Homo sapiens: one gene and its partners. The protein of the gene in region 1 interacts with the protein of each later gene in a biochemical or structural test. Each region holds a gene or a part of one and is shown on either strand. Other genes may lie near its edges.

Region 1 (7,665 bases):
TGATATACATGTAAGGGTATAGTGAAAGGTAAGGCTAGAAAAGTGGGATGGAGATACACAATTGGGCAAGTGCCAGATTGAGCAGTTTGTACTAAATTTGATGGGGAACTACTGATAGTTTTTAAAATAGGGTGGAGTCATGATCTGGACAATGCTTCAGGAAGATGGTTTTGGCAAGAACACAAGACGGACTGAAGGGAAGGCAACCAAGCAGGAGACCAAACAGGAGATCACAGCAAAAGTCTCGACCTAGGTTAACCAATACCTGACCTAGGGTCGTGGCAATAGAGCTAGAGAGGTGGGGGCAGCTGGAAGGGCCATTGTGTAGAAAGTATAGTATTTATACCTGTGCAGTCCAATATAGCAGCTCCTAATTAAGGCTCTTTAAATGCAACTTTAATTAAAATTAAATAGGATTTAAAATTCAGGCCAGGCGTGGTGGCTCACGCCTGTAATCCCAGCACTTTGGGAGGCTGAGGCAGGCAGATCATGAGGTCAGGAGATTGAGACCATCCTGGCCAACATGGTGAAACCCCGCCTCTACTAAAAATAAAAAAATTAGCTGGCCGTGGTGGCCTGTGCCTGTAGTCCCAGCTACTCGGGAGGCTGAAGCAGGAGAATCGCTTGAACCTGGGAGGTGGAGGTTGCAGTGAGCCAAGACCGTGCCACTGCACTCCAGCCTGGTGACAGAGTGAGACTCTGTCTCAAAAAAAAAAAAAAAAAAAAAATTTACTTCCTCAGTTGCATTAGCTGCATTTAAAGTGCTCAATAGCCATATGTAACTCCTGTTTTGGACTATGCAGATAAAGAACATTTCCATCACAGTGCAATGTTTATTGAACAGTGCAGCTCACTATGCTTTAGGGACTAATTAGGCATAGAATGAGGAAGATGGATTAAAGGAGGCTTCGGTTTGGCAGCTGAGTGACTGAGAAAGGTAGTGCCATGAACAGAAAAGAGGAAGTCAGGAAGAGGAGGAGCTGGATTTAGGAAGAAAGGTGTTTAGTTTCTGTCAAATACTAGGCCAGATAAAGTGTCTACCCAAATCATCAGATATCCCTGGTGAAAGGAAAGGGCAGGGAAAGCAAAGTGCCCATTGGGTTCTCCCAAAGCTTGTAAAGGAGCCCTGGGAGGATTTAATTGGTTTATCTCCTCCTGCACTCAGTTTCTCCTGTTTGTGCAGCTCCCTGAAGATTATGAGTGGGCAATCCAGTTCCTCAACCTCTCCAAACCAATGGTTCACATATACCGTGATGAGGACAGAAGCCCAAGGGCTTTGCTGTTTCCTTAGCTCCTTGGAGCCAGCTTGAACCTTTTTCTCACAGATGCTTTGTGCTTCCTGTCCCCTAACCGCCTTACTCACCCTTCCCCATGCTCAACTTTTGGAAAGTCCCCTTGGCCTCACTTGTTTGATTACTTCCTCTCAAACTACTTCTCACAGGGACCACAGCAAACCATTGACTCTACCACTTTTTACTTGCCCTGTCTTCCCTCCCAGCTTAAATTCCAAGGTCTATCACTATAATCACTCCCTTACATAATACTCCTACCCCTCTCATAGGCTTTCCCCAGCAAAACTCAGACCTGGTCAAATACAATTCTCCTCCAACCCCCAAGCAATGGAGTGTGGCTGGAGGAGAATCACACGGCCTTGCTGAGTGGTCTCACTTTAATGTATGATCATCAACTCAAGAGGGCCCTCAGCACTGTCCATGCTAAGCTTCTCTAGTCACTTTTCCACTCTTCAAGGAGATTATTTCTCACCTTCTTCTATCTCCTTTAATAGCCAACAGCTTTTCATTGCATAGAGAACAGATCTTACCTCATCAATCCCAGTGAGGCAGCCAGTACATATGGCACTCAGTGGAAACTGGGAAAAGGTCCATACGTGTGTGTGTGGGTATGCATGTGTGTGTATGCGCATGTGTGTGTGTTTGCGCATGTGTGTGTGTTATATGCAGGATGCTAACATGCACCACCTCTCCTGGTGGAGCAATCAGAAAAGTACCCCTTCCTCCAGGCTGATGTGACCCCACCAGGGCACGTGGCTTTGTGGGCAAAACAAGGGCTACATTTCAGCTCCTACCTGCCGCCTCTGCTCTACAGGGGCCTGAGCGTGCCACAACCAAATGTACTGTCTAATCTATCTGCTTCTGCACCCAGACACTCTACCTTCTCTCCAGAAACAGTGTGTGAATGCATTCCCTTACTCCTATCCTAGGCCAACCCTTTCACTTCTGTGCTAGATCCAATTGCTTCTCACCTATTTGAGGACACTCTTTCTCCAGTTGTCTCCTCTTGCCTTCTGTGTCATCAATTTTACCTCTCTTACAGAGTCTCGCTCTGTTGCCCAGGCTGGAGTGCAGTGGCGCGATCTCGGCTCACTGCAAGTTCCGCCTTCCAGGTTCATGCCATTCTCCTGCCTCAGCCTCCTGAGTAGCTGGGACTACAGGCGCCTGCCACCACGCCTGGCTAATTTTTTTTGTATTTTTAGTAGAGATGGGGTTTCACCGTGTTAGCCAGGATGGTCTCGATCTCCTGACCTCGTGATCCACCCGCCTTGGCCTCCCAAAGTGCTGGGATTACAGGTGTGAGCCACCACGCCTGGCCCAATTTTACCTCTCTAAAGAATCATTCCAGCTGGGCGCAGTGGCTCACACCTGTAATCCCAACACTTTGGGAGGCCGAGGCGGGTGGATCACCTGAGGTTGGGAATTCGAGACCAGCCTGGCCAACGTGGAGAAACCCCGTCTCTAATAAAAACACAAAATTAGCCAGGTGTGGTGGCACATGACTGTAATCCCAGCTGCTTTGGAGGCTGAGACAGGAGAATCGCTCGAACCAGGGAGTTGGAGGTTGCAGTGAGCGGAGATCACACCACTGCACTCCAGCCTAGCAACAGAGCAAGACTCCGCCTCAAAAAAAAAAAAATCATTCCAGCATACTAAAATGAGAAAAAGCATTTCTCATCTTAAAATATCCTCCCTTGATCTCAAGTACCTCTCTGGCTACTGCCCTTTTCTCCTTCAAAGCAAAGCCTCTCAAGAGCTGTTTAGAACACTTTCTCTTCCTCACCTCCCATCCTATTAACATACCCTAATCAGACTTTCTCCCCTATGACTCCACTGAAACTGTTTTCATCAAGGTCATCAGCAACTTCATCAGGCCACATCCAGTGTTCAAATTCTCAGTCCTTATCTTACTAATTTCAGCAGTATCTGATAAGACTCTTCACTCTCTCCTTCCTGAAACAATTATCTTGTTTTCCAACGCTTCACCTTCTCTTGGTGTTTCTCCTGCCCTGACTGGTAGCGCCTCCTTTTCTACTTAACCTTCAAGTGTTGGAGTGCCTCTTGGTCCTTTCCTTCAGCTATCTCCCCTCCCCATGTGATCCTAACTAGACTTAAGACTTAAAAAGTATCTATTTGCTAATGAATCCCAAATGTATCTCTCTAGACTCATATATCGATTGTTTATTCAATATCTCCATTTGGATGTATAACAGACACCTTAAACATAACATGTGTAAGAAAAGACTCTTGATTTCCCCATCCCCAAATCTGCTCCTCCATTTCATTAAGTGGCACCGCCATTAACTCAGTCATCAGGCCCGAACCTAAGAATCAACTCTTGATTTCTTTTTGTTCTTTCACACACTATGCCCCAAATCCAAATCCATTCCAATCAAAATGTATCTAAATAAAATAAAATAAAATAAAATAGCCTTCTTCTCATCCTGTCCGTGGCTGCCAGGCTAGTTAGTCCAAGCTACCTTACTGGTATCCCAAGGACATCTGTGCTTCTCCATTGTGTATTTTACACACATCAGCAAGACTAACTTTTAACAACATGAATCAGATGCGGTCATTCCTCGGCTCACCCTTCTCTCATGGTTTCCCGTTCCTGTTATAATGGCCCACAGGCTTCACTGGATCTGGCCAAGCCTAGCTGGTACTGCTCTCGGGCTGGCTGACGCTGCTCAGCCATGCCGGCCTTTCACTGTTTCTGCAACATGGCAGGCGTATCCCCACCTCTGGGTTTATGGCTGATTTTCTCTCAGCTTGGAAAGGCTATTCCTCCTCCAGGCCCGCGTGTTTGCAAGACTTATTCCTTCATCCCGTGTGTATGCGCTCAAAGGTCTTCTTTGAGAGGCAGTATCTCACCAGGTGTAAAGTCACCCTATCCTCTGCTTTATTTTTCTCCACACCACTTATCACTACCTGCAATTTTTGTCACTTGTTTGTTGTCTGTCTCCCCTCTCTCACTCCACCAGCATGCAAGCTGCAAGAGGGTCTTTGCCTGTCTATGACTTTAAACCTCTGCGCTTAGTTAGAACAGCGCCTGGAACCTAACAGGTGCTCAATTAGGGCTTGTCGAATGATTGAGTTCCCTCCAAATTCTCTTCTTGAATCTTTGGACCCTTCCTCATCTTTTTTCCGGTCTTACCCACCTCCCATCCCGCCCTACGCAAAGCTAAAACTCCCCGCCCCTTCCCGGTAGCTCCAGGCTTTCCCGGCTCCAGTGTGCGCGGCTCCTTTAAGCGGACTCCGGAACGCCGTGGGGAAGGCGGGGCCGAAGCCCAGCCATCGCCAACTTGGAGGGGCGGGGCAGAACCAGGGGGCGGGGCCTGCGTGGTGCGTGCGTGCGCGTTCTGGAGGAGGCGCCGCCGCCGCTCCCGAGGCCCCTGCCGCCGCCGCTCCCGCTGCTGTCGCCGCGCAGAGCCGGAGCAGGAGCCACGGCCGAGAGGAGGGAGGAGGAGGAGGAGGAGGTGGAGGAGGTGGAGGAGGTGGAGGAGGCGCCGGACCGGGGGGGTGAGTAAGGGGCGGGGAGCTCCAGACGGCCCCAGAGGGAGCGGGGGGCGCGGGTCGGCCGAGCCGAGGGTGAGGCGGCTCATGTCGCCGGTCAGTCGCCTGGCTCCCCCTTCCTCCTCCGCGTTCCATCGGTGTCGGGGCGGCGGCCCGGGGGCCTGGCCGGCGGGAGGGGCCGGAGATCTGGGAGGCCCGGCCGCCGCCAGGGCCAGAGCCAACCACGCCCGCGGACCGACCCGGTCGACTGTAGGCCTGCGGGAGACCGTCGGGAGGGGCCCCGGCCGGCTGTGGGAGAGAAAGAGGACATTGTGTCCCCCACCCTTCAGCTCCCCGAGGTGTCATAGCACAAGCCCATTTCCCTCGCCGTCTCCCCAGACACGGTGCCCTCGTACCTCACTGCCTGAGAGAAGTAGAAGGTTGGACATCGCTGCCTTCCTCCTCTTGCATGTCCCCTGTCTAGGGTCAGAGCTTCCTTCAAACCCAGCTCTCCCTTTTGGGCCCGCGGGGGCGGGGGGGAGGGACACACGGGGAACGGGGTTGGAGGGTTGGGTGAATTCTCTGTCCTCTGCTGTAGGAGTGCGGGTAGACTGGAGCATTGCTGTCTCCGGGCTCACTTCTGTCAGGGTTCAGGGTCTCCCTTTCCTTCCTTTATTCCCCCAGTTAATAGGGCTGACATCTACATCCCACTCCACCTTCCAGCCCCTTTCCCGCCTTCTTTACCCTCATGTCTTCCGTAGCTTACCATGTGTTCGCCTTTTCAGTGTTACTTTTCATGGGTCTCTGCTTCTTCCCTGAATTTTGTTAGGGAAGAGGTCACGGTGTGATTCTTGTTATCCTTCAAACTAGCGGCTTGGTAAGAGTATCTCTTGCCCCCTTAATCAGGAAGTTAAGGACGGTGTCTTCAGCCGAGTTGTGTAATTTACTGCTACGGGGAGAAGATGAGAGGAAGACATTTGTGCCTACAAAATGGGATCTCCTCTTAGGGCTGAGAACCAGAGTTTAGGGAACCTTTGACCTCTTGGAAAAAGAACTGCCATTGAGGAGTAATGCATTCTGTTTTGGGAGGGAAAATCATTTTGTTACTTCTTTGAAGGGAGGAGGTATAAGAAATGAAATAGAATAATAGAGCAGAAGGTCAATGAGCCACAGCCCTACAGGTAGCCAGCCACTCTTCTTAGGTGGCGGATGATGTTTTTGTTTTGATTACAGTAAGAATAAAGTATCAGCTCTTAGATTTAACTTGGGGCTCCTACCTTCAAAAGCATGAAGGGCCGTCTCAGAAGAGATGCTGCTGGAAACAGGATTTGGAAACTTTCTTTGGGTTTCCTGTCAGAATGTGTGGGGGTGGACATGCCTATGTGTAGTTTTTCTTTCCTTGTGATGTAATTTATTTCTGTGATACTTTGACATAATAAGCATTAAATTAGGCCCCAGACTTTCTGTCTTTATTATGCTTTCCTATAACATTGTTGTTTTGAAATCATATAGTTCGATATTCTTTTGTAGCGTGATATTTCAGTGAATCCTGTCTAGTTTTCTTGGTGTTTTAAATTATGGCCTACTTCAGATACGATTAGCTGTTAGGTATTGAGGATCATACGTGTTAAGTATTTGTTGAATGAATTGAATGATTACAAAGATGAGTCTAGTTATTAAATCTTCTGTCCTTTTGAGAGGTACCCTATATTAGGATACTGCAGTCCATTTCCAGTTTGTAAGATAGTAATTCTTAACCTTTTCTAGGCCACTGACACCTTTGAGAATATGATGAAATATATAAACTCTCTCCCCAGAATAAAGTTAATAGGCATTTATTCACAAAATTTTGCATTAGTTTTAGGGACCCTCTGAGGCCAACCATGAACTTATGTCTTAGAAGTGAACTGGATGGAATCCCTCAGTGTTACACAGTTCCATATTAAAACAGCTCAAAAGCCTTTGTTCACTTTTTGTATGGCTTCAAGAAGGACAGTATCTACACTTAATATACCCCAGAAGACAGGTATATTCATATACGTTGTTCCTGTAGTCCTTCTGAAAATGAATCCCAAGGAAATATTCCAAAAGAAAGAAAATGTTGTATATGCACATGTTCATTTAATTATTTTAATAGATGGGAAGAAAAGGAAACTACTTGCCCAACAGCAGAAAGATACACAATTTTGCAATCACTGAAAAAGGTTAGAAGTGAAGATTATTAATCTCCTAATTGATCTTCCAGCTTCCACTCTTGCCCCTCCACCCCAAGTTGATTTCCACACAGCAGCTACAATGATGCTCACAAACTTCAGAACAAGTCTCTCTTCTATTCAAAACCCTCCAGTGTTTTCCCATCTCATTCACAGTAGAATCCAAAGTTCTTACCATGGCCTACAAGCCTTACAGCTGCCCAGCTATTTCCCTAATCTCAAGCCCCTTTACTTTTCCTCTTGCTTACTGTACTCCAGCCACACTGGCCTCCTACATCCCAAAAAGGTCAAATACACTGAGGTGTCTGCACTTAATGTCCTCTCTGCCTGTAACCTTTTTCCCCAAGGCAGTATATATCCCTCACTTCTTCAGGTCTCTGCACCAGTCTCAGGTCTTCCCTTACTACCCTTCCCTGCCACTGTTTCTATCCTCTCACCCTACCTTATACTCTTAAGACTAGGTTATACTGATTTTGACAGCCACAGTTGTTGACAAACATTCCATGGTAATGTCGCTTGTATACTTGCATTGGACATTATTGTTTAACATTTAAAAAATAATGTCAGTCATAAAAAGATAACTTTCAGATTGTTAAGTTGAATTTTTCAATAGCTCACATTTAAATTTTGGATGTTAGCTTACCTCTCTTCAACATTTAACTACAGGA
Region 2 (7,670 bases), on another chromosome or scaffold:
TTTTTATTTCCAGTCCCAGGGTTTCTCTTTTTTTCACCATCCACAACAGTTGTCACTTGAATGAGGCATATATTTGAACTGTGTTTCCCAGTTACGTCCTTTTCCCAGTTGAAAGGTCCCAGCATCATATTCCCAAGTGAACCCACATGGGTTCATTGTACTTTCTCTTTTGTGCAGGGTTGAAAATGTCCATAATAAAAAAGATTTTATAAAAATAGAGCATACATTCCTATACTCTAGATTTGGTCACAAGAGGAATTTGTGGTTGGGAAGAAATTAGCATATTCATATGCCACACCACTCCCTGGCATGCCCTCCCTATTCTGTGCCTGGTAAAATTGTTCTCAGCCTCTGAGTTCTAGGCAGGACACCTATGGAAGTATCTCGATAACTCTCTCATCTGCATTCCCAAAGCACTTTATACATCTCCATTAAAGCACTTACTATTGCATTGTGGTTAGCTGTTTATAGAGCCGTCCCACCACCAATCTCCCCTACCCTCTAAGCCTACAAGCAACTCTCATATTTTGTTGCATCCCCAGTGCCCAGCACAGTGCCTGGAAAAGAAGATCAAGATAGCATTTAAAAGAGGATCAAGATAGCATTTCACAGTGCCTGGAAAAGAGGATCAAGACAGCATTTCTCAGAAACATTGAGGGCAGTGTCTCCACTAAACAGGTGTTTCAGGGGGCTTCCCTAGCCAACTTCCATAAACACTCTCAACCTTTCTCCTTTCCTAAAAAAAATAAATAAATAAACAATCTAAGTAAAAACACAACTTCAAAACAAGTCCCCCCATGGCCTTCATACAATGAGATTGCTGCCCTAAACTGTTCCTCATTGGAATTAATTCTGGCATGAACACTGCAGAACATGCAAAGTTCTTTTAATACCACAAAACAAAAAGCCTACATGGCACTCACAGTTTTCAAACTATTTCACCTTTTTTTTCTCCTTCCATTTGTCCACTTATCCCTGATAGTCCTATCCTCATTTTTCAGACACTCAAGGAAGTAAAAGTGACATGTCCAATATCAGAACTGGTAACAGCTCTGTGCCTAAAACCCTTAACTTATTGATCTATCCACTCATCTGACTCTTCTGATGCTAGGCTCAGTATCTGTGAAGGGTTTTTTTTTTTTTCCTAGATTTTTTTCCCATTATGAATGGTGGCATTAAATGGGGGCACCATGCTCTAAAAAATCCATTTCAAGCAAAATCATTTAGGCAGATACACATTATGAAAAGAGAGAGTCGAATATGTCCCACTTGTGTTAGTATTGCTCTATGATTTTGCCATAAGTACTTCTTATTGACTAACGGGTTTCCAGTGAATTACCGACTGTTCAAAAAATGCCATGCCATGCATTTCTACACATAGAAATATGTTATTATCTAAAAATTTTGCTCATAAGGAAGCACTACTATTTATAGGTTAAGTGCAAGATCCTGAATCCCATATAATTCCTTTTTCCTGAACTATTAAATGTAGATACTTATCACATTAACAACCTCTATACTTTAAATACTCTTAGTTCTTCTACATAATCCTGTGTGATTTAACTATTACTTTAATTCTCTTACTATTTATTGCATGCAACTCTTTTAATATTAGTACATATCATTTTAGACATAAATAGGGCACTACCTGCCAAAAAATCTTGCTACTGAGTGGTAATTGAAAGTCAAGATTATTTCTCAGATATATTAAGCTTTTCAAATGAGCTACATTTAGCTTTTCTCAAATTACTTAATATTTTTCAACAAAGGCCTATAATAGAGTATGCAAAGCACGTCACACTTAAGATTTTCAAGTTTGATCTGGTTACGAATCTGTTAATTGAAAATTTTTCAATATGGCAGAGCACAAAATATTTCACACAAATGCAAATAGAGATGTCATGCAGATAGCTGCAAGACGTGCATCATTGCCCTTCTGCATCAAACTCCGAAATTCAGAGGCAGTTCACTCTGCAAGATTTCTTGCTCAGTTCTTAAAAGTTCAGATGCATCACCTTTTAATCAGGGTAATAAGCTATAATTGCTAACATACTGTGTAACGTTTAAACCTGCAATCTGGACAAACAGAAAATTATGCTGTCACAGCCTGGAAACAACTGCAATCCACTGTTAACACACACATCCTCCTTAGAGAGAGCTGTCGTCGGGAGTTACATGCTTTATGGTTTTAATTATTTTTAGCGTAAAGATCTTTTCCCGAGAAGCAGGTATTAAGACGAAAGCAGCCTCCCAAATGACCTTCTCTAACACAGACCTTGAGCGAGCGACTGCGGGGGCAGAGAGCTGTGAATTTCAGCAAGGGATTCGACAGCTCCACCGGGTCCCTCACACTTTGCTTTCAAGAACAAAAAAAGAATGTTACTCTGCACCTGCCGGTGCCCCCACCCCTCTTTAAAACTTCATACCCCGCAAGGTCTGAATAGCCGGAAAGGGTATGCATCGATTCTTCTGTCCCGTGATGCCAAGAGAAAATAAACCCCCACCCAGGAGCGGAGCCTGGAGTCGCGGCAGGGCAGGGGGTTGGAGAGGTGGGTGCTCTCTCCCCTTACTGCGCTGCATTTTCTCCACCACGTGTAATAATCTCATGCCGCTGGCACCCCACGAGAGGCGGGGATCCTTGTCCTCCTGTCTCCCGGACGAGGACCTCAACCCCTTCCCCCGCTCGGGGACCCCGGCCACCCGCAGCCCGGCCGCGCTGCGCCCAGGTGCGGAGCTGCGGCGGTCTCAGGGCCCGGGCAGCACCGCAGAGCTCGGCCCCCGGCTGCGGCCCCCGGCGAGCTACCTTTTATCCAGGCAGGCGATCCACTCGGCAGAGGAGGAAGAATGGGCAGCGTGCGCAGCGACCATGTTGAGCGGCGGCGCGCGGTGTCCCTGGCTGCGGCGACCTCCCGCGCTCGCTCTGCCTGCGCCTCCGCCCCCGCCTCGTCCGCCGCGCGGACCCCGCTCCTCCCGGACGCCTGGCGACCAGCGCGGCTGCGACAGGCCCGCCCTCCCCGCGGGCTCCCGCGGCCTGGGGCGGTGGGGAGAGGGAGGGGACCCGGGGGGCGGGACGCGGGTGCGGGGAGGGCCGAGTCGCCCGCCCGCCCGCCGCTGCACTGCGGCGCCCGTGGGTGGGGATTCCGCCCCGGGGTGGGGACCCCGCGGTCCCGCTGCTGGGGGACACTGGGGGTGGCGACCCCGGTGGCCGGCCACCTGCGACAGGTGTCCGCTGCGTCCCTCGGAGACTGGGGCCCCACCCTCACCCCGGGGCCTCTGAGGCGGGGCGGGAGGGCAGGCGCCAAGGCAGAGTGGGGAGAGGGCTGCCAGTGTCTATATATTTTTCATACAGCAAATGCTACTAAAATGGCTGCTGCCTCTCTGTTTCCTTAGAAACCCATGAGTCTTCCTCAGCAGCTGTCGAAACTTGCCGGCGGTTGCTTGCTCACCTTTGCTGTCTCCCCTTCAGAAAAGGCTGGAGGGGAGGGCGAGGAAGGCTTGGCGTGGGGACGCCCGTCGAGTCTCTCAGTGAGGAATGAGAGGCCAGCTTCTCCTGCGGGGTGAGGAAGGGCTGGGCGCAATGGGGGGCAGTGCGGGCAGGGCTGAGGGGCAGGGAGGGAGGAGGCCGGTGGGCCCGATGTGGTCTGAGGGGGTGACAGGCTGAAGTCACTGGCCTTGAACCCTGGGCCTGCCTGGGCTTCCATCACCTGCATGGTGAAGAAAACACAGTTGAGAATGGGGAGTAGCCGGGCCACAGCAGAACCGAGACCCCGGACGCGCAGGTGAACTTGTATGGCTGGCCCCCTTGCTGTTCTTCCTCTGGCTGGAGTGTTGAATGGGTGGTGATAACGGCCTGTCTCTTGTAGATGTTCACACAAATGTCATGTCTACAAGTTATTCAGTTACACTCTGCCAAGAACCAAATTACACGCCAATGGTTGTTTAGGAATTTGCGGACAAGTTAAATGTTTTGGACTATTACCAAGCACTGTTTTGATATTTATGGCACTACATTTGGGGCCAGACAATGGGGGAAAGGGACATAGCATTGCTTTCTTCTACTGTTCCCTGCCTCCTCCCCCCACCAAACCTCCTATCCAACCCTGCTCAGGGGAGAGTCAGGGGGACTGGAGAGAAGGAAAGAGCAAGTGCTTTCTGGGATGCTTTGATCCTAATAAAACAATTATTACCATGATATAAAAGCCTCCAAATATGTGCCATTTCCCTCTGCTGGATAGCCAGGATCTAGTTTCAGACCTGCCACAGTGTTCCCACAGCAACTCCTCCCTCCCTGCTCAGGGCTTTTCCCCCAGTTAACCTTCATTCTGTTAATTTCTATCATGTTTATGCTAATATTTAAAATAATATACTATAGAAAGATTAACCAAAGGTATTTATGTTGTGGCTTTTTTACTATACAGGTATGAAGGAGGAACTGTATCTCCTATATATATTAAGTTTCATTTATAAAGACATCAGAGAGCACCTGAGAATGTTTCAAGGTCACCAAAAGCTTTCTGAAAATGCCTTTCTGCAAAGAAGGTTTCCAGGTAAGGAGCTAGAGGAGAAAGGAGCTGCACATCACCTGTCATCACACAGAGGCTCAGAGTTGCCATAGCTTTGGTTATGATACTAATAATAGTCGCCATTTATTGAACATCCACTGAGTGTTAGACCCTGTGCAGTACTCCTTACATGTGTGATCCCATTTAATCTTCAGAACACTCTATGAGGCAGAGCCAGAAAGACACTACTCCACAAACAGCAATAAATATCCTTGAAAATGTAGTGAAATATTGAAAATGATATGTATCAGTACTTTCAGGGAGAGTGTTAATTGGATTGGAAGGAAGACACTGATGAGCTGCTGGGAGTGAGAGTGAGACCCTCGAGGAGTCCACAGTGCATTTTAAGGAGTGTAGCTCTGATGAACTGCAAGGCCTTTGTTTTGCTGTGTGGGGGCCCTGCCTCTTCTCTAAAGAGAAGTTGAAGACTTATTTAAAGAACATCCTTTCGAAGGAGAACCAACAATCACTAGCTTGTCCAGAGCATGCTCATGTCTTCATCCAGCCCTGGAGGTAGGTACAAGTAACTCCAAGATACTCACTAAGACACTGAACTCAGGAAGGGTCCATAACCCAGCTACAGGAGATGGGGCCCCGGAGTGGAATTTGGGTCTGTCTGATTCCAAACCCTTCCACATCAGTGATGGTGTCCCTGTTTCTGCCAATAGAATGGGAGTATAGGGCATGTCTACAATGACTGTCCAGAGGGTAAGAACAAAATAGTTATAAATCAGTTTTTTAATGTAAAAATAGAGAAATGTGTGAGGAATTAAAAAACAGAGATCCTTAAAACATCAGGAATAGCTTTACTGTCCTATAGATTATCTTGTGATCTGAAAGGGATTTGATTGCTGGTCAAGAACTACAGGAGTAAAGGAAACTCTGTTGATAATTAGTTATTATAGTATTAAGAGGAAGAAAACAGGCTTTTGCTTGGATTGGATGGGAAAGGCAAAGAACCAAAGAATATTTATTCATTTCCCTCTCTTTAAAAGAACACAATATATGTCAGTCCCAAAAGAGCATATGTTGTATGATCCTATTTATGTGAAACTTCCAGAAAAAGCGAATCTATAGAGATGGAAAATAGATTAGGGATTGCCTAAGGCTGGGAGGTGGGAATAAGGGATGACTGCAGATGGGCCTGAGAAATCTTCTAGAAATGATCTAAAATTGAACTGTGGTGATGGATACACAACTCTATAAATTTAATAACAATCATCAAATGGTATAGTTAAAATGAGTGAATTTTACAGTATGCAAATTATCTCAATAAAAATGTTAAGTAAATAAAATATTAATAAACCTATATGGAGAGGAAAAATAATATGATTGATCTTTTGGGGGGAAACAGAGAAAAATATAGGAGAAAAAGTAAAAATTACCCATAATTCCATAACATAGAGGTAATACTGTTAATATTTTAGTGCATTTAATTCTAAACTTTTCTATTATGAAAAGATACAATCAAGGCCAAGCACAGTGGCTCACATCTGTAGTCCCAACAATTTCGGAGGACAAGGCAGGAGGATTGCTTGAGGCCAGGAGTTCAAGACCAGCCAGGGCAACATAGTGAGACCCCCCCCATCTCTACAAAAATTAAAAAAAAATTAAAAATTAGAAGTGATATGATCATACATGTACCCACAAACACATACATATAACTAGCTATGTGTATGTATATGTGTGCATATATGTATGTGTATAGATACATGTATTCAAACAGACTTGAAAGCATTAATAGTTTATAGGCTACTTTTTCTATTGGAATGGAAAAATGCTTTACTTTCCTTAAAAAATCCTTAAACATTTTTTCCTGGCCACCAAATATTCTAGTGTACAGTTATAATTTACTTACACTATCTTTTGAGACTTGTTTTTTCACTTGGAAAAGGTATTATCTGTTTAATCTCCTTCCTATAGTTTAGTGAATTCTTTCTCTACTAGAGAACTAAGATCTCTACTGAAGATCTCCATGAGACAAGGATGAGACAAGACCAATATCTGTTAATGCTATGTAGATCCTCGAATGAGTTGCTAAAATGTCTGATTTCCATTTTGTTCATCTGAGCAGAGGTTCAAAGTTAGGAATTTGAAGGCAGGCAGCCAAGTTCAAATTGCAGCCATATCTTCTACTAAATGTTTGGCCTTAAATTAACTACTTAGCCTAAGACTCCGTTTCATCATCTGTAGAGTGGAGAAATTAATAGTATTATACATGAATTTGGTATTTGTAAGATATTTAGCATAAGTGCCAAGCACATAGTGAGTGTTCAATAACTCTTAGCTATTATTCTCCATATAGTGCAAATAATACTAGGTGCTCTCTGCATTTCACAGGGACCTGGTGGTGATAAGCTGTCGAGATCACTTATGCTAAAGGGCTTCGACATCTATAAATTGCAAGTTTTGGCTATAAAGGATATGAGGGATGGGTCTCCTGAGAAACCCATAGAAATTCTCCAGGAAATTCTATCATAGATTGGGCATTCACTCATATCCGTATATGGGGAAAAATCTGATTCACCATGTTTTAGGTACCTCATTGGAAGGTAGGTTATAAAAACACATCTATCACTCCTGCTGGTGATATAACCAATTCAATGAAGACGCAGTATTCCTTCGGTGAAATCATAAAAGCAATTTTAATGTTTTATCTCACTGTCCTTTTAAACTTGCTCAGTGAAGGCAATTCTACCCCTGCCACTGGATATAGCTTGTTTGGTCACTTATAGGTAATAGAAAGTACCAGATTCTTTCTATTAGAATGCCCAAACCAATATATCACTACATATTTCAATCTTCATTTCAAAGAAAAGAACTCTGCCCTCCTCCCCAACCTACAGCTGGTCACAGGCAGGTCTCAGCCTTTAGGAGAGAAGACGTGGTCAGCTTCTCCTTTCCTTCCTCATCCCAGACCACCATGAAAGCTGCTGGTTTTGACCCTTCCAGAATCAGAGTAGGGAAGGGAAGAGAGAAAAGAAGGGGCAAGAAAGTTCTTACTTTACTGGGACAGTTGTAAGATGGCATTGTCTTTTCCAAACCTGGCTAATGTCAAACCTGCTCTTTATCTTGTGGGTGCCTTCATTTTTTCTTAGGTGCCCCTGC
Region 3 (7,029 bases), about 90 Mb from region 1:
GGGCTCCCAGCAGCTGTGCCGGGCTGCCCCCTCCATGGCGGTCGGGGGAGGCAAGGCCTGGACTCTCGGCCAGCTGAGACTCTTGGCCTGGAGGGCCCAGCATGGGATGGCAGGGGTTAAGCTGGGTGCTGGCTGAGGAGCCAGGTAGGTCCCCATCCCCCATGAGGGGGTTACTTGTCTGTCATGTGTAGGCAGTGGACAGGGCATCGGCAGACCTGTGGCAGAACTGGAGGGTCCAGGAGGCATACTGGGCACAGCCGGCTCCCTGCCCCTCAGCCCACCTGGGGCTCCAGGGACCTCAAGAAGCAGGGTAGGGTGATAGGAGGTCCCTGGGAAGAAAATCCTACCTTCTAAGGCAGGTGCATGTAATCACAGTCTTCAGTGACCTCTGAAATAATCTTGTCCATTTGTAGCAGACATGCCCAGAGAGGGAGAGTGACTTGCCCAGAGTCACACAGCAGAACCCAAATTGGAAACCAGGACCCGGCTCCCAACCCAGTGCTCACTCCCCCACATATCACATCCTCCTTGTGCTGCCTCCAGGGGCTAAGCTCTCCACACGGAGCTGTCTCAAACTCTCTCTCCCACCTTGTTCCCTCTGAGTCCAGAGGGATGCTCAGGGGTGATGGAGGCCCAGGGAGGGGGCAAGCCAGACCCCCAGTCCTGCTTCCACTGAGCAATCCCTGCCCCAGCCCAGACCCCCAGGCTGGGGGTGGGGACGATGCCAGCAGCTTCCCTGATCCCAGGTCTGGACGGCTCTGCCCTGCAGAGACAGCCCAGATGGGTGGGCCATGGGGAGGGTGGGGAGGCAGGGGGCAGCCCACGGGCTGGTGTTGGTCTTCAGGGCAGAGGTCTCGTCTGCCTGGGCTTGACACGGCACCTTCCCCTTGTGCTTCTGTGGCCTCATCTGCAGGGCAAAGGGGGATGGAGACACCATGAAACATGGCATGGTGGGTGGCTGGCACCAGTGTGCCCCAACTCTGCCAAGTCCCTGCCTCAGAGAACCCCACCCTGGGAGGGGCCCACCCTTGGAATTCCAGGCTCCAGGTCTTTCCATCCCATTGGGAACCCCTGAAACTTCTCCCCACCTGGCAACTGCCAAGTCCCTTTCACACTCCCATCAAATCCTCCAACAATGCAAGGGCAGAGGTCACGGGGAAGGGCCGTGGCCTGCCCAAGTCACCCAGCAACTGAGGACCAGGGGGCTCAAACCCAGATACATAGCTCCCACCCCAGAGAGGTGACAGAAGAACAGGGAGGAATCAGCTCAGCCCTCTACACACCCCCACCCTCTCCCACCAAACACAAGCTGAGGGGCTGGGTCTAACCTGCTCAGTTTCACCTTCAGAGGGGGTGGCCCGGCTAACAGCCCTGCAGACAGACAGTGGTGGTGAGGCAGGTGGCAAGACGGGAGAAGCAACGGGGCGGGAGACACAGGTGCACAAAGTCACTGGCTGTGTCCAGGCCGGGCAAGCCCCACCCCTCCTGGCCTAGCGGGGCCTAGGGGGACCTCTTGGTCGAGCCTCAGCTCCCAGCCTCCCCGCCAGCTCATCCCCTCCCGGGTGGGGCTCCCTCAGCACCAGCCCCAGGAGGCTGCACGTACCAGCTGGGGCATGTGCTGCTCAGATGCTTCCAGCTGGATCTTGATCTCGGGACACGCAGGGTCCCCCAACTTGCCGGCGTCTGGGTGGGGTGATCGAGAGGGGCCTGGGGAGGGGGGCAGGAGGGAGCCACCTCACTGGCCGCGGGGAGGCACCAGGGAGACGGGGGCATAGGTGGGCGGTCGGCACCAGTGCGCTCCAACCCCACCCTTAACTTTCTTCCTTGCCATCCCCCATTATCCTCCGAGACCCTTCCGGAAGAAACCAGCCCTCCAATCCACCCAGCCACCCTAGGCTGGACAATGACCTGCCCGCTGTCCTCCAAGTCAGGGGCAGTCACATCACATCCACTGCATGGGGCATGGGAACTGGTGCCCAGCCCTGTCCCCCTCCTACCCCAAGGTAGCCCTGCTTTGTGGGGAAGCTGCCTTGTCCTGGTACCTGGGGAGCTGCCCCCACTAGTGGTGCTGACACTGTCCTCCAGCCACGTGCTATAGATGAAGGAGTCCCGCTTGTGGGGTGTTCCTGAGGATGACACGCTCTCCTGGGGAGGGGGTGGAAAGAGGGAGGGAGGTTAGCCTATGCCCTTGGCACTGGCTAGGGCTCCCTCCCAGCCCCTCTCCCTCACTGCATTCCACAACCCCCCACCCGTACCCTCTGCGAGGAGGACGGGCCTAGCCATGTCTGCCCCAGGGAGACCACAGGAGGGCAGAGTCAGGGCAGGCACAGACCCAGGCACACGCCACCCACTGCCACTCACTCACTCAACAAACATTCACTGATGTTCTCCAGGGCTTGCCACTGACATAAATCAGGCATGGGCCCTGCCCTCAGGAGCCTGATATCTGGGAGGCAAGGCAGGCTGTGAAGAGACCATTGCAATTCTAGACTCTGTGCCCCAGCAGGCAGGGCCTGGGTCTGCACTGTTCCCAGCTGTATCTGTTGTATCTGGGGCAGCGCTTGGCAAGGAACAGGGGCCCACTGATGGTTTGCAGAATGAAGAATGATAAAGGGTGTTCCGGGCAAAGCCCGAGGACTGTGAGAACGTAAAGGGGCTTCCTAACCTACCCCGAGATTAGGAAATCAGGGAAGGCTTTCAGGAGGAGGTGTGTGAGACTCAGTCAAAAAGGATGAGTCAGAGCCAGCCTGGCAAAGAAAGGAGGAGGCGGCAGGAAGAGTGTTCCAGACAGAAGAGATGGCACATGCGCAAAGGGCCAGGGGTGCAGTGAGCCTGGGAGGCTTGGGGGACTGCAACGGAGTACAGAATGTCTGAAGTGGTAAGAGAGGAGACTAGAGAGGAAGGGAGTGACCAGATCTCCAAGAGCTCCAGAGACTGAGCTTCCTGTGGACAGTGCTGGGGAGCCGTGGAAGGCTTCTGAGCAGGGGAGGGTTCGTCTGCACTGCTCCTTTGGGCCGGGTCCCCTGATCACATCTCAGCCACGCCCAGGCTCGTGGTTCTACTCAGGGCATCTCCAGGGACCAAAGAGCCCCCTTCCAAGCTCCTGTGGGGCCCCTGACCCCCCTGAGCCTCTCACCAGGCCTGTGTCCTCTCCGTCCACACCCTCCGTCTCCTCCACCACGCTGGCGAAGCTGCTGGCACTGGACGAGGAGCGGGAGAAGTCCTTGAGCGCCTCTGCTCTCTGCGCTGCGGTCTCCGCTCTGCCACAGACAGTGCCCCATTAGCCGGTGTCCACCCCGAGCCCCTCCTGGGCCAGGCCCTCACTCCCTTGCCCTCCCCAACCCGGGAGGCCCAGCTGGTAGCAGCCAAGCACCTTTGAGGACCCCTTACAGATCCTTGGGCCTCTGAGCCCCCCAGACTCCCCCTGCAGCCTCCTCCTACCCGCATTGTCCTTCCTAATCCATAAATCTGACCACGTCCCTCCCCTGCTCAAAACCCTCTCCTGGCCTCCCATTTCCCCAGGTAAAGCACAATATCCTTGGCGTGGTGTTCAAAAACAGCAGCGGTTAGCGACACTAACATCATCGGGTGCACGTTCACTCTGCACCGGGCACTGCTCTACGTGCCTTTACCTGAATTATCTTATCGCTATGATTATTATACCCATCTTCCAGATGAGATGACACCAGGCACAGAGGGGACAGGCACACAGCCCAGGGTCACTCAGCACAGGTGGGAGGGCAGGGGTTGAGGTCCAGGCAACTCCACAGTCTACTCTCTTAATCCCACAAGGTTTTCATGCTCAGGGCCTCTATGCCTCCTGCCTGGAGTCTCAGTCCTCTCAAATCCCGAAAAGCAAATGTGCCTTTAAAAAATCAGCCTAGGGCTCTCGCTCCAGGAGTCCTTCCCTGATTCCTCCTCCCAAGGTGAGAATGACCCTCCCCACTCTGGCTCCTGCATACTGCGTCTCCCTGGTCCCTGCCACCCTTTCCTGCCTCTCTGTTCACCTACCCGGCTCTTTAGCCTGGGCTGAGTCCTCTTGATTCCCACAGAGCCCAACACAGAGGCAGCTCAGCCAACGGACACCAAATGCAGGGACAGTTTCCTCACTGGCCTCTCTGCTTCCATCCCACCCCACTCCAGCCTCTTTGTACAGCAACCGAAGTCAGCTTCTTAAAGCATCGCCCTCGTAATTAAAATCCTCCCAAGGTTCCCTGTCACACTTAGGATAAAAGTCAAAGCTCTTAGGCTGGGCGCAGTGGCTCACGCCTGTAATCCCAGCACTTTGGGAGGCTGAGGCGGGCGGATCACGAGATCGGGAGATCAAGACCATCCTGGCTAACACGGTGAAACCCCGTATCTACTAAAAATACAAAAATTAGATGGGCATGGTGGCGGGCACCTGTAGTCCCAGCTACTTGGGGGGCTGAGGCAGGAGAATGGCGTGAACCCGGGAGGTGGAGCTTGCAGTGAGCCGAGATTGTGCCACTGCACTCCAGCCTGGGAGACAGAGCAAGACTCTGTCTCAAAAAAAAAAAAAAAGTCAAAGCTCTTGTACAGCCTGCTAAGCTATAAGCCAGTGTCTGCCCACCTCTCCAACCTCCTTCCCGCCACCACCCAGCACAATGTCACAATGTCTGTCCAGGCCCAGCCCCTCAGATACTCTTTTTTTTTTTTTTAAGCAATGGAGTCTTGCTATGATGTCCAGGCTAGAGTGCAGTGGCTATTCACAGGCATGATCATAGCTCACTGCAGCCTCCAACTCCTGGGCTAAAATCATCCTCCTGCTTCAGCCTCCCAGGTAGGTGGACTCCAGGCATACGTCACCACTCCCAGCCACCCTTCTTTCTGTCCCTGGAGTGTGCCCCAGGCCTCTGCACTGGCCGAGCTCCTCTGCCATGCCAGTCCTAGCAGGGCTGGTTCAGTTCCCAATTCAAATGTCACCCCATGGAGGTGTCTCCCCGAGGACCCATCTAAAACACCTCTGCCCCCAGTCCCTCTTCATCCCCCCAACCCTGCTTCGGGTTCCTCCTATCACCATGATCCGGCAACAGCCTATGAGGCCGCGTTCTGATGGACCTGCGGCCGTGAGGCGGGGACCTATGCGCAGGGCACCTCTGTGCTCCAGAGCCGGGCGCGGGGCTGGGCGTGCACAAAGTGCTCGCTGGGTATATGTCAAAGGAGGGCCCCAGAGAATGCCCAGGTCCCCCTGACACCCTGCTGTGGCACAGTCAAGGCTCCTGTGCTGTCCCGGGCCCAGGCAGGGGAGGGGAAGGACGGTTCACCACTCCCAAGCCCCCAAGCCCCACGTGCCCTGAGCCCCAACCTGTTCTTGGTCGTGGGCATCTCTGGGGAGCTCTGAGTGGATGAGTTCTCCGACTTGGGCTCCTGTGAGACGTGCCCGCTGTCTGGGGTCTTCTGACCAGCCGGAGGGCTCTCCCTGCGGGGCACACGGGGGCAGCGGGGGGATTCAGCACCAGGCCTGGCATCAGGCGTAGCGTGAGGCCCAGGCGGTGAGGGGAGTCACGGTGCCTCCTGCCTCATACCCACGCCCCTATACTCAGGGCCAGCCCTGGAGCAGTCTTGTGGGCTCCCTGGCTAGCCTGGCCAGTGATGGGGTTGGCACTGATGGGGCTATATGGGACAGGATGGGACTCCTCCCAGGTCCTCTCCACAGGAGCAGGTATAGCTGTCCCATTATGGATAAGGAACCTGCCCAGGGACGCACAGCTAGGACGTGGCAGTGCCAAGACCTGAACCCAGGACTCACAGCATGCGGAGCTCTGGCAGCAGCAAGGACAATGCCCACTCCCGTCCTGGAGCCCTCTCAGGGGACCTGGCCCTGGCCTCACACGCAGTGCCCTGAGTCCCCACAGCAGCCCCATGCCATGGGTTGTGTTCTTGTCCCTTTTCCAGGTTGGGACAGTAAGGCTCAGAGGAGGTCAGTGACTCGCCCAAGGTCACACATGGTTAATATCGGGGAGGCAGCCGGGAGCTAGCCTCTGATGTCCGGGGGCAGCCCTGCTGCTGGCCTGGGCTCACTGCCCTCATGCTGCCCACACTCATGGACCCCCCAGGCCCATCTGTGGCCACCCTGAAAACCAGCACTAGGCCCTCCCACATGCGCTGGGGCCGTGGGAAGAGCACGGATGCTGGCCCTAGACAGATCAGGGCTCAGATCCTAGCTCTGCCCATCACTGGCTGTGTGATCTGGGCAAGCCCCTTGACTCCTCTGACCTACCGCTTCTTGATCTGCATGTGGCACGTTAGGTGACGTGCTGGCCCTGGTGCCCGACACGCAGCAGGGACTTGACCACACAGCTGTCACTAGTGGGGATGGAGAGGCAGAGGGGCGGGCACTCCCTTCTGCCTGCCTTGCTTTGCCACCGAATGGGGCTCAGGGATGGGGATGCAGGGGAATGGGGCACTGTCCCCCACTCACCCACCTCTTCTCCTGCACCTCCTGTATGTTCTCGATGCCAATGGCGCTGCTGCGGCGGGAGCCGAACGGGCCCGACTTCTTCCTCGTGGGGCTCTTCCCAGGGACAATCAGTGACTGTGGGGAGAGGCCCCAACTCAGTGCCACCTTACCTGGGAGCCCCAGTGCCCCCCCCACATCCCCTCTGGGGATCCTGCTGCCCCAGGCCCTGAAGCAGAGTTGATGAGCAAGAAAGAACGAGAGAAGATATCCATTCCCAGAGACAGCCTCCCAGTTTACGAAAGGGAAACAGTCCCCAGGAGGGCAAGGGGCTCTCCCGAGCTCACACGGCAGGACTGCACGTCAATACTGGCCCAGGATTAGGACAGCATCCTGAGGGGGCTAGGGTGGGAGGAGGCCGAGTCCTCAGAATGGCTACCGCTCCCCGCCCCCCAGGGCTCTGTGGGATCTGCAGCCTAAGGGCAGTGGTCAGAGGGCAGTGTAGCAACCCAAGTCCCACCCCGTGCCAGCTAGGGCCCCTCCCCGGAACCTCCAAATTGGCTGGGGGAGGTTCTGGCCCAGCAGCTGGAAGACTCCCCCAGCTTCCCACA
Region 4 (7,029 bases), on another chromosome or scaffold:
ATTAGTACAGCCATTATGGAAAACAGTATGGAGGTTCCTCAAAAAACAAAAAATAGAACAACTATATGATCTAGCAATCCCACTATTGGGTATACATCCAAAGGAAATGACGTCAGTATATTGAAGAGATATCTTCCCTCCCATATGCATTGGAGCATTATTTACAATGGTCAAGACATGGAATCAACCTACGTGTCCATGGATGGATGAAAAGTTAAAGAAAATGTGACACATAGATACAATGGAATACTATTCAGCCTTTAAAAAGAAGGGAGTTCTGTCATTTGTGTCAGCATGGATGAAGCTGGAGGATACTATGCTAAGTGAAATAAGCCAGGCACAGAAAGGCAAACACCTCATGATCTCACATATGTGGAATCAGAAAAAGTTGGTCTCATAGAGGTGGAGAGCAGAATGGTGATTACCAGGGCTTGAGTTGGATGGTGGGATGGGGAGATGTTAGTCAAAGGATACAAAATTTCAGTTAGACAGGGAGAATAAATTCAAGAGATGTATTGTGTGACATGGCGACTACAGTTATTAAAACAATGTGTTGTACAGTCCTGCCTTCTATCCACAGGGAATATATTCCATGGAACAAACTCTGCATATACTCAAGTCCCTGATATAAATTGGGATAGTATTGCATAAAACCCACGCACATATGCTTTAAATCATCTCTAGATTACTTGTAATACCTAATGCAATAGACATGCTATGTAAATAAGTGCTATACTGCATTGCTTTTTATCTGCTTTTATTGATGTATTATCATTTTTATTTCTTCCGCATATTTTTGATCTGTGGTTTGTTGCAACCATGGATACAGAACCCATAGATAAGGAAGGCTACAGAACCCACAGATAAAAAGGGCAAAGAGGGCTTATCCCAGGGCTCTGTATCCATACAGCTGAAAATTGCTGAGCAGATTTTTAAGTGTTCTTACCACGAATACATGATTAAGTATGTGAATTAGCTTGATTTAGCCATTCCACAATGCGTACATATTTCAAAACATCATGGTGTACATCATAAATACATACAATGTTTATCTGTCAATTAAAAATAAACTGATTTTTAAAAATAAGAGTGCACCTGCTGGACACTCCTCCCCCTTGAAGCTGTGCCTCTGTTGCTGTGGGGCCACTGTCTGCTGGGGAACTTCCTCCTGCCGGGCAGTGGTGGCAGAGTAAGCTAGGACCTGTGGGGACAAAGGAGTGATGGGTGTGAGTGACTTCCAGACCTCACCCCTCCCAGGCTCCATCTCACATTCCCTTCACCCCAAGTGACAAAACCCATCAGAGCTTGGACATTTTTTCCAGCTCCAAACTTTCATTCTTTCATACCTGTGTTTGTCCCTTGGCCTGTTAGGGCCAGCTATTTTCTATAAAAAAAAAAAAAAATACAGGCAAGCGCGATGGCTCAAGCTTGTAATCCCAGCAATGTGGAAGTCTGAGGCAGGTGGATCACAAGGTCAAGAGATCGAGACCATCCTGGCCAACACGGTGAAACCCTGTCTCTACTAAAAATACAAAAATTAGCTGGGTGTGGTGGCACACACCTGTAATCCCAGCTACTCAGGAGGCTGAGGCAGGAGAATAGCTTGAACCTGAGAGGCAGAGGTTGCAGTGAGCCAAGATCGCGCCATTGCACTCCAATGTGGTGACAGTGCGAGACTCCATCTCAAATAAAAAAAAAAAAGAAAAAATGAAAAGAAAAAGAAAAACACTTATGTATCCTTTTCTCATATTATAACATAAATTTACCCCAGATAATGGGAGCAAGAAGAGCTATTTTGTTTTTTTGATACAGAGTCTTGCTATGTTGCCCAGGCTGGAATGCAGTGGCTATTCACAGGTGTGATCATATCTTACTATAGGCTTGAACTCCTGGCCTGAAGTGATCCTCCTGCTTCAGTCTCCCAAGAAATGTGGATAAGAGGCACATGCCACCATGGTTGGAAAGAAAAGATTTTATAAGAATTTTAAAAAACCACACACATATGAGCCCTTCATGCAGAAATAGCATTTAATATATTTAGTTTCACCAAGTGTTTAATTGACCAATAGGTGAATTCTGTCTCTCACTCACACACACACAAATACACACAGACACACACTTAAACATACTCAGCTTTACAAATGAAGGTTATAATATATATAACCTTACAGAAAGTCAGGATATAGCATCAAACATTAAGTAATTAATTACTGCTTTACAAAGGACCTTGTCAAGCTGCTCCCACTAAATATCAAAGAGTGACAAAAAAGATGAAACAGCAATTCAGGGATTCTGGCCATGATCTCTATGTTATAAATGACAACTAGAAGACAACTGGAGAAATCGGAATAGAGTGCGGATAGATAGTGGTAATGTGTTGATGTTAATTTCCTTGTTTGTAGAAAGTACACACTAAAGAATTCAATAATAGCTTTCATCATGCCAACAGCCATTTTTTCAAATGTTTTTATTGTATAGTTTTTGTAACTTTTCTTTAAGTTGGGAGTGTTTTAAAGTAGGAAATTAATTTAAGCAAAACCAAAATGGTTACAATGAAAGCTGCTTATGTTGGGCTCAGTTCAACTGCCTGGATCTAAACAAGACAAAATGTAGCTTTCTTCCACATCAAAGCCTGACTAGCAGTTGGTGACAGTGAAGCTAACCCACTTTTCCCAAATCATTCTTTCCCGGGTTGGAGTCCCTCTAGGTTCAGGCGATGTCTGCGTCTCCTTTCTCTGCTCTCACACTCTTACTCCCTCTCATTTAATGAGGGGTTTATTAGTGTTTTTTAAAATCCTTTCAGAAGACCAACTTTTCATTTTGTCTTTTTTTTTTTTTTTTTTTTTTTTTTGGAGACAGGGTCTCCCTCTGTCCTCCATGTTGGAGCGCAGAGTGCAGTGGTGTAATCTCGGTTCACTACAACCTTTGCCTCCTCTGCCTCCCAGGCTCAAGTGGTCCTGCCACCTCAGTCCCCAAAGACAGGTGTGTGCCACAACGCCCATCTAATTTTCACATATTTTGTAGAGCTGGGGTTTCGCCATGTTGCCCAGAGTGGTTTAACTCCTGAGCTCAAGTGATCTGCCTGCCTGGGCCTCCCAAAGTACTGGGATTACAGGCGTAAGCCACCGCACACAGTTGGTTTTCTCAGTTCTTTCTGTGGTTTGTATTCTTTGATTTATGCTCCTTCCTGTTACTTTGTTTGGTTTAAATTTACACTTATATTTTATGATTGATTAATGTAGCTCCTCAGGCCATAATTTTCTTTTTCTTTTTCTTTTTTTTTTTTGAGATGGAGTCTCGCTGTCTCCCAGGCCGGAGTGCAGTGGCACAATCTCGGCTCACTGCAAGCTCCACCTCCCAGGTTCATGCTATTCTCCTGCCTCAGCCTCCCAAGTAACTGGGACTACAGGTGCCCGCCACCACGCCTGGCTAATTTTTTGTATTTTTAGTAGAGACAGGGTTTCACCGTGTTAGCCAGGATGGTCTCGATTTTCTGACCTCGTGATCCACCCTCCTCGGCCTCCCAAAGTGCTGGAATTACAGATGTGAGCCACCGTGCCCGGCCCATAATTTTCACGTTTTTTCTTTTTTTGACAGCTTTAGTGAGACACAATTCACATAATTAATAATTATGATTATTCATATAATTCACCCATTTAAAGTCCACACTTCAGCAGTTTTTAATATACTCATAGCTATGCAATCATCACTATAATCAATTTTAGAATATTTTTATCACTCCAGAAAGGAACTACATACCCTTCAGCAGTAACTCCCCATCTCCCTAACCCCCAGTTTTTTAATACAAACATTGAAAGCTGTATATTTCACCCTGAGCACTGTTAGCTATTTCGCACCACTTTTGATGTGTTATATTGTCATTATTACTTACTTTGAAATATCTTACCTTCCCTTTTGATTTCCTGTCTGAACCACAGATTTTTAGAAGTGTGTTGTTCAATATCAAAATTTTAGAATTCTCTGTGGATATTGTTACTGATTTCCAGTTTAGTTTCATTAAGTTTAGAGATCATATTGTGTGTTTTATAGCCCAGAACCTGGTCTATCTTGGTGAAAGTATCATGAGCATAGAAAGGAATGAGTGTTCAGTGAATGTTCCACTCCTGCTCTTTAAATGTCAGTTAAATCAAGGTGGTTGATAGTGTGCAGATCGCTTGCCACTTTACTGGCATTTTCATCTAATCATGCTAGCAAGTGCAGAGAAACAGCTGAGTTAATCTCTTTTTAATTCTATTTTTGTGTCATGTGTTTTGAAGATGTATTACTAGGCATATACAATTTGTTGTTATTATACTCCTTGAAGAATTAACCCTTTTAACTACAAAGGTCCCTTTTCATCTCCCATAATATTCAATGTCCTAAAATTGTCACAGTAGGCAGCTAGTTAGGTATGAGCAGGACAGGAGAGGGGTCCCCGCTTCTGACACCAGCAGTGTTGGGCGACCATCAGGTAGTTGATAACTGTGTCTCTAAAGTAATAACTGGTTACAGCCGATGCCAGAAAAAAGCAGTTTCCTAATACATAGAAAACACTTGAAACTGATCAGCAGCTTCCCAATAAGATTTCAGGAGTGGGGAGAAGTAAGGCAAGATCCTGGAAGTAGGCCAACCTATAAAACCCCAACTCAGGCGGTCCGGCTGCGTACTGTTTCTCAAGTCACCTGCTTGGCCATCTTCCAAGTGTACTTTCCTTCTTTTCTTTCTGTTCCTTCCTTTCCTTCCTGTTCCTTCCTTTCCTTCCTGTTCTAAAGCTTTTTAATAAACTTTCACTCCTGCTCTGAAACTTGCCTCCATCTCTGCTTCTGCCTTATGCCCCTCAAACCAGTTCTTTCTTCTCAGGAGGCGAAGAGCTGAAGGTGCTGTGGACGCATACGGATTCGCCGCCTTCAACGTAGGGTAACTCGGATCTCATCCACCGCTAACAAAATCAACTTCATCTGATACTGAGATAGCCATGGCAGTTTTCTTGGCCTTACACTCTGCATGGTGTATCTTTTTCCATCTATTTACTTTCAACAGACAACATCTGTGTCTTCCTTTTAAGGCCCATCTCATATAGACAAGATATAGTTGAGTCTTGCTTTCTCAGCCCTTCCAAACATTTCTACCATTGAACTGTAGTGCTCAGTGGATTTACAGGGAGTGCAATAATTGATATAGTTGAAATAGACCTGTAAGTTTACCATTTAAGCTATGATTGTCTAGTCTAATTTTTTTACTCCTTTTCCCCCTGCACATTTTAATGTTAATTACCTTTTAGAATTCCATTTTAATTGGATAAACTGACTTTTTATGCATACCTATTTCCATGATCTATGTGCAAGTGCTATAGGGAATACAGTATACACTCAAGTGTTTACATTCTATTGAAGGTTTTTTAAAAATGGATTCATTGAGGTATAATGGGCATGAAACAAAGTGTACATTTTTGAAGCATGTAGTTTGGTAGATTGAGACGTGTGTATACATTGTGGAACTACCACCACGATAAGAAAATGACATGTCCACCACACCCCAGAATTTCTTCATTCTTCAATGTAATCCTCTCTTCCGCTTTGCTCCTATGTCCCCAGCAATAATTCTGCTTTTTGTCAGAATAGATTGGTCGAATTTTAATGAGAAATGGAATCAGATGGTAAGCATTCTGTGTGGATTCCTTCACACGACATAATTTTCTGTGTTTTTCTGTTTTTCTGTTTGTTTGGTTTTTTGTTGTTGTTGTTGTGACCGGGTTTTGCTATGTTGCCCTGGCTGGTCTTGAACTCCTGGGCTCAAGTGATCTGCCTGTCTTGGCAGGACTACAGGTGTGAGCCATCGCACCCTGCCCACCCTGGTCAATTGACTATTATGAATTAAAGGCTATTGAAAAACAACAGGTGCAAGAAGATCCTTTGACCTCTTTTGTGTTTCCTAAAAGCAGGAGATGAAAGTCCCCAGGGAAACATAGGACAATCTCCTTTTTTTTTTTTTCTGAAAGCTCTGCTTCCCAGGTTCTCACCATTCTCCTGCCTCAGCCTCTCCAGTAGCTGGGACTACAGGCACCCGCCACCACACTCCGCTAATTGTTTTGTATTTTCAGTAGAGACGGGGTTTCACTGTGTTAGCCAGGATGGTCTCGATCTCCTGACCTCGTGATCCACCTGCCTTGACCTCCCGAAGTGCTGGGATTACAGGCGTGAGCCACCGCACCCAGCTGACAATTTCCTTATTTTTAAGGATGAGAAGTCGAGGCCAAGAGGGTACTGTGCAGACCATGTTAGAATGGATCCACTCTCATCTTTTTAGCTCCTCACATAGTTACTTGCTTCTTCATGAGTTACTTGGTCTAATTCAGTAAATAAGTAACTGACTCTCACAGGTTCTTCCATGCCAGGTAAAACTTGAATTAAATAAATGTGTGTGCTTGTCTCCTGTGGACCTCTCTTAGGTGAATCAAATTCTCAGGCCCAGCTAAAAAAAAAAAAAAAAAAATCGGGTGGGGGGGCATCTAAAGGAGAGCTTCGCTCCCCTCCCTGACCCTCAATGGTGACTGTAATCAAACCACATCTTCCAGGCCAACAGTACCACATCCTATGGCCCTGCAACAGCATGGCCTCTCTCCAGCACAGCCTCTCTGGAGGAGGGGGAGGCAAGGGTAGTGAGATCTCAGGCCTCCTTCATGCTACCTCCTATTAGTTATATAATCCCTGGGTCACCTCTCCCACCACACTGCGGGCTCCAGGGAACAGGATTCACATGGGGTTCATTTGTCCTCCCAAACTCCGGCGGACTCCAGGCACAGGTGTTCTCAGAGTAAAGGGCTCACTGTTTACTTCCTGGATGAATCACTTTCCCCTCAAGCCTATGAAGTGCGCGCAGTTGTGGCCTCAGCTCAAGGCCGAAGGACAGGCTCCAAGAGCCCTGTGAACTCTGCTGAGGAACCATAAGAGCTCCCAGAGGCCAAGGGCAGGACAGAGATCAGAGAAGCAGCTGCTCAGAGAACTCTAGCCCTGAATCTCATTTTACCAC

The links.
Region 2: of the proteins of RAP1A (region 1) and RAPGEF4, one has a biochemical effect on the other in vitro, tested with the Homo sapiens proteins (one study listed by BioGRID).
Region 3: of the proteins of RAP1A (region 1) and RAP1GAP, one has a biochemical effect on the other in vitro, tested with the Homo sapiens proteins (one study listed by BioGRID).
Region 4: the proteins of RAP1A (region 1) and TNFRSF10C form a complex in vitro, tested with the Homo sapiens proteins (one study listed by BioGRID).

The regions. Positions count from the first base shown.
Region 1 is NC_000001.11:111,615,124-111,622,788, forward strand, and holds the start of RAP1A (ras-related protein Rap-1A precursor), read left to right. Parts: upstream 1-4,665; 5' UTR 4,666-4,811; exon of another isoform or gene 4,812-5,275; intron 5,276-7,665. UniProt on the Homo sapiens protein: Counteracts the mitogenic function of Ras, at least partly because it can interact with Ras GAPs and RAF in a competitive manner. Together with ITGB1BP1, regulates KRIT1 localization to microtubules and membranes.
Region 2 is NC_000002.12:172,731,182-172,738,851, reverse strand, and holds the start of RAPGEF4 (rap guanine nucleotide exchange factor 4), read right to left. Parts: upstream 3,008-7,670; 5' UTR 2,869-3,007; coding exon 2,804-2,868; exon of another isoform or gene 2,462-2,803; coding exon of another isoform or gene 2,427-2,461; intron 1-2,426.
Region 3 is NC_000001.11:21,596,358-21,603,386, forward strand, and holds part of RAP1GAP (rap1 GTPase-activating protein 1), read right to left. Parts: intron 6,557-7,029; coding exon 6,447-6,556; intron 5,483-6,446; coding exon of another isoform or gene 5,441-5,482; coding exon 5,327-5,440; intron 3,261-5,326; coding exon 3,137-3,260; intron 2,146-3,136; coding exon 2,043-2,145; intron 1,739-2,042; exon of another isoform or gene 1,708-1,738; coding exon 1,604-1,707; intron 1,372-1,603; coding exon 1,363-1,371; coding exon of another isoform or gene 1,329-1,362; intron 908-1,328; coding exon of another isoform or gene 617-907; 3' UTR 1-616. UniProt on the Homo sapiens protein: GTPase activator for the nuclear Ras-related regulatory protein RAP-1A (KREV-1), converting it to the putatively inactive GDP-bound state.
Region 4 is NC_000008.11:23,105,892-23,112,920, reverse strand, and holds part of TNFRSF10C (tumor necrosis factor receptor superfamily member 10C precursor), read right to left. Parts: intron 1,202-7,029; coding exon 1,096-1,201; intron 1-1,095. UniProt on the Homo sapiens protein: Receptor for the cytotoxic ligand TRAIL. Lacks a cytoplasmic death domain and hence is not capable of inducing apoptosis. May protect cells against TRAIL mediated apoptosis by competing with TRAIL-R1 and R2 for binding to the ligand.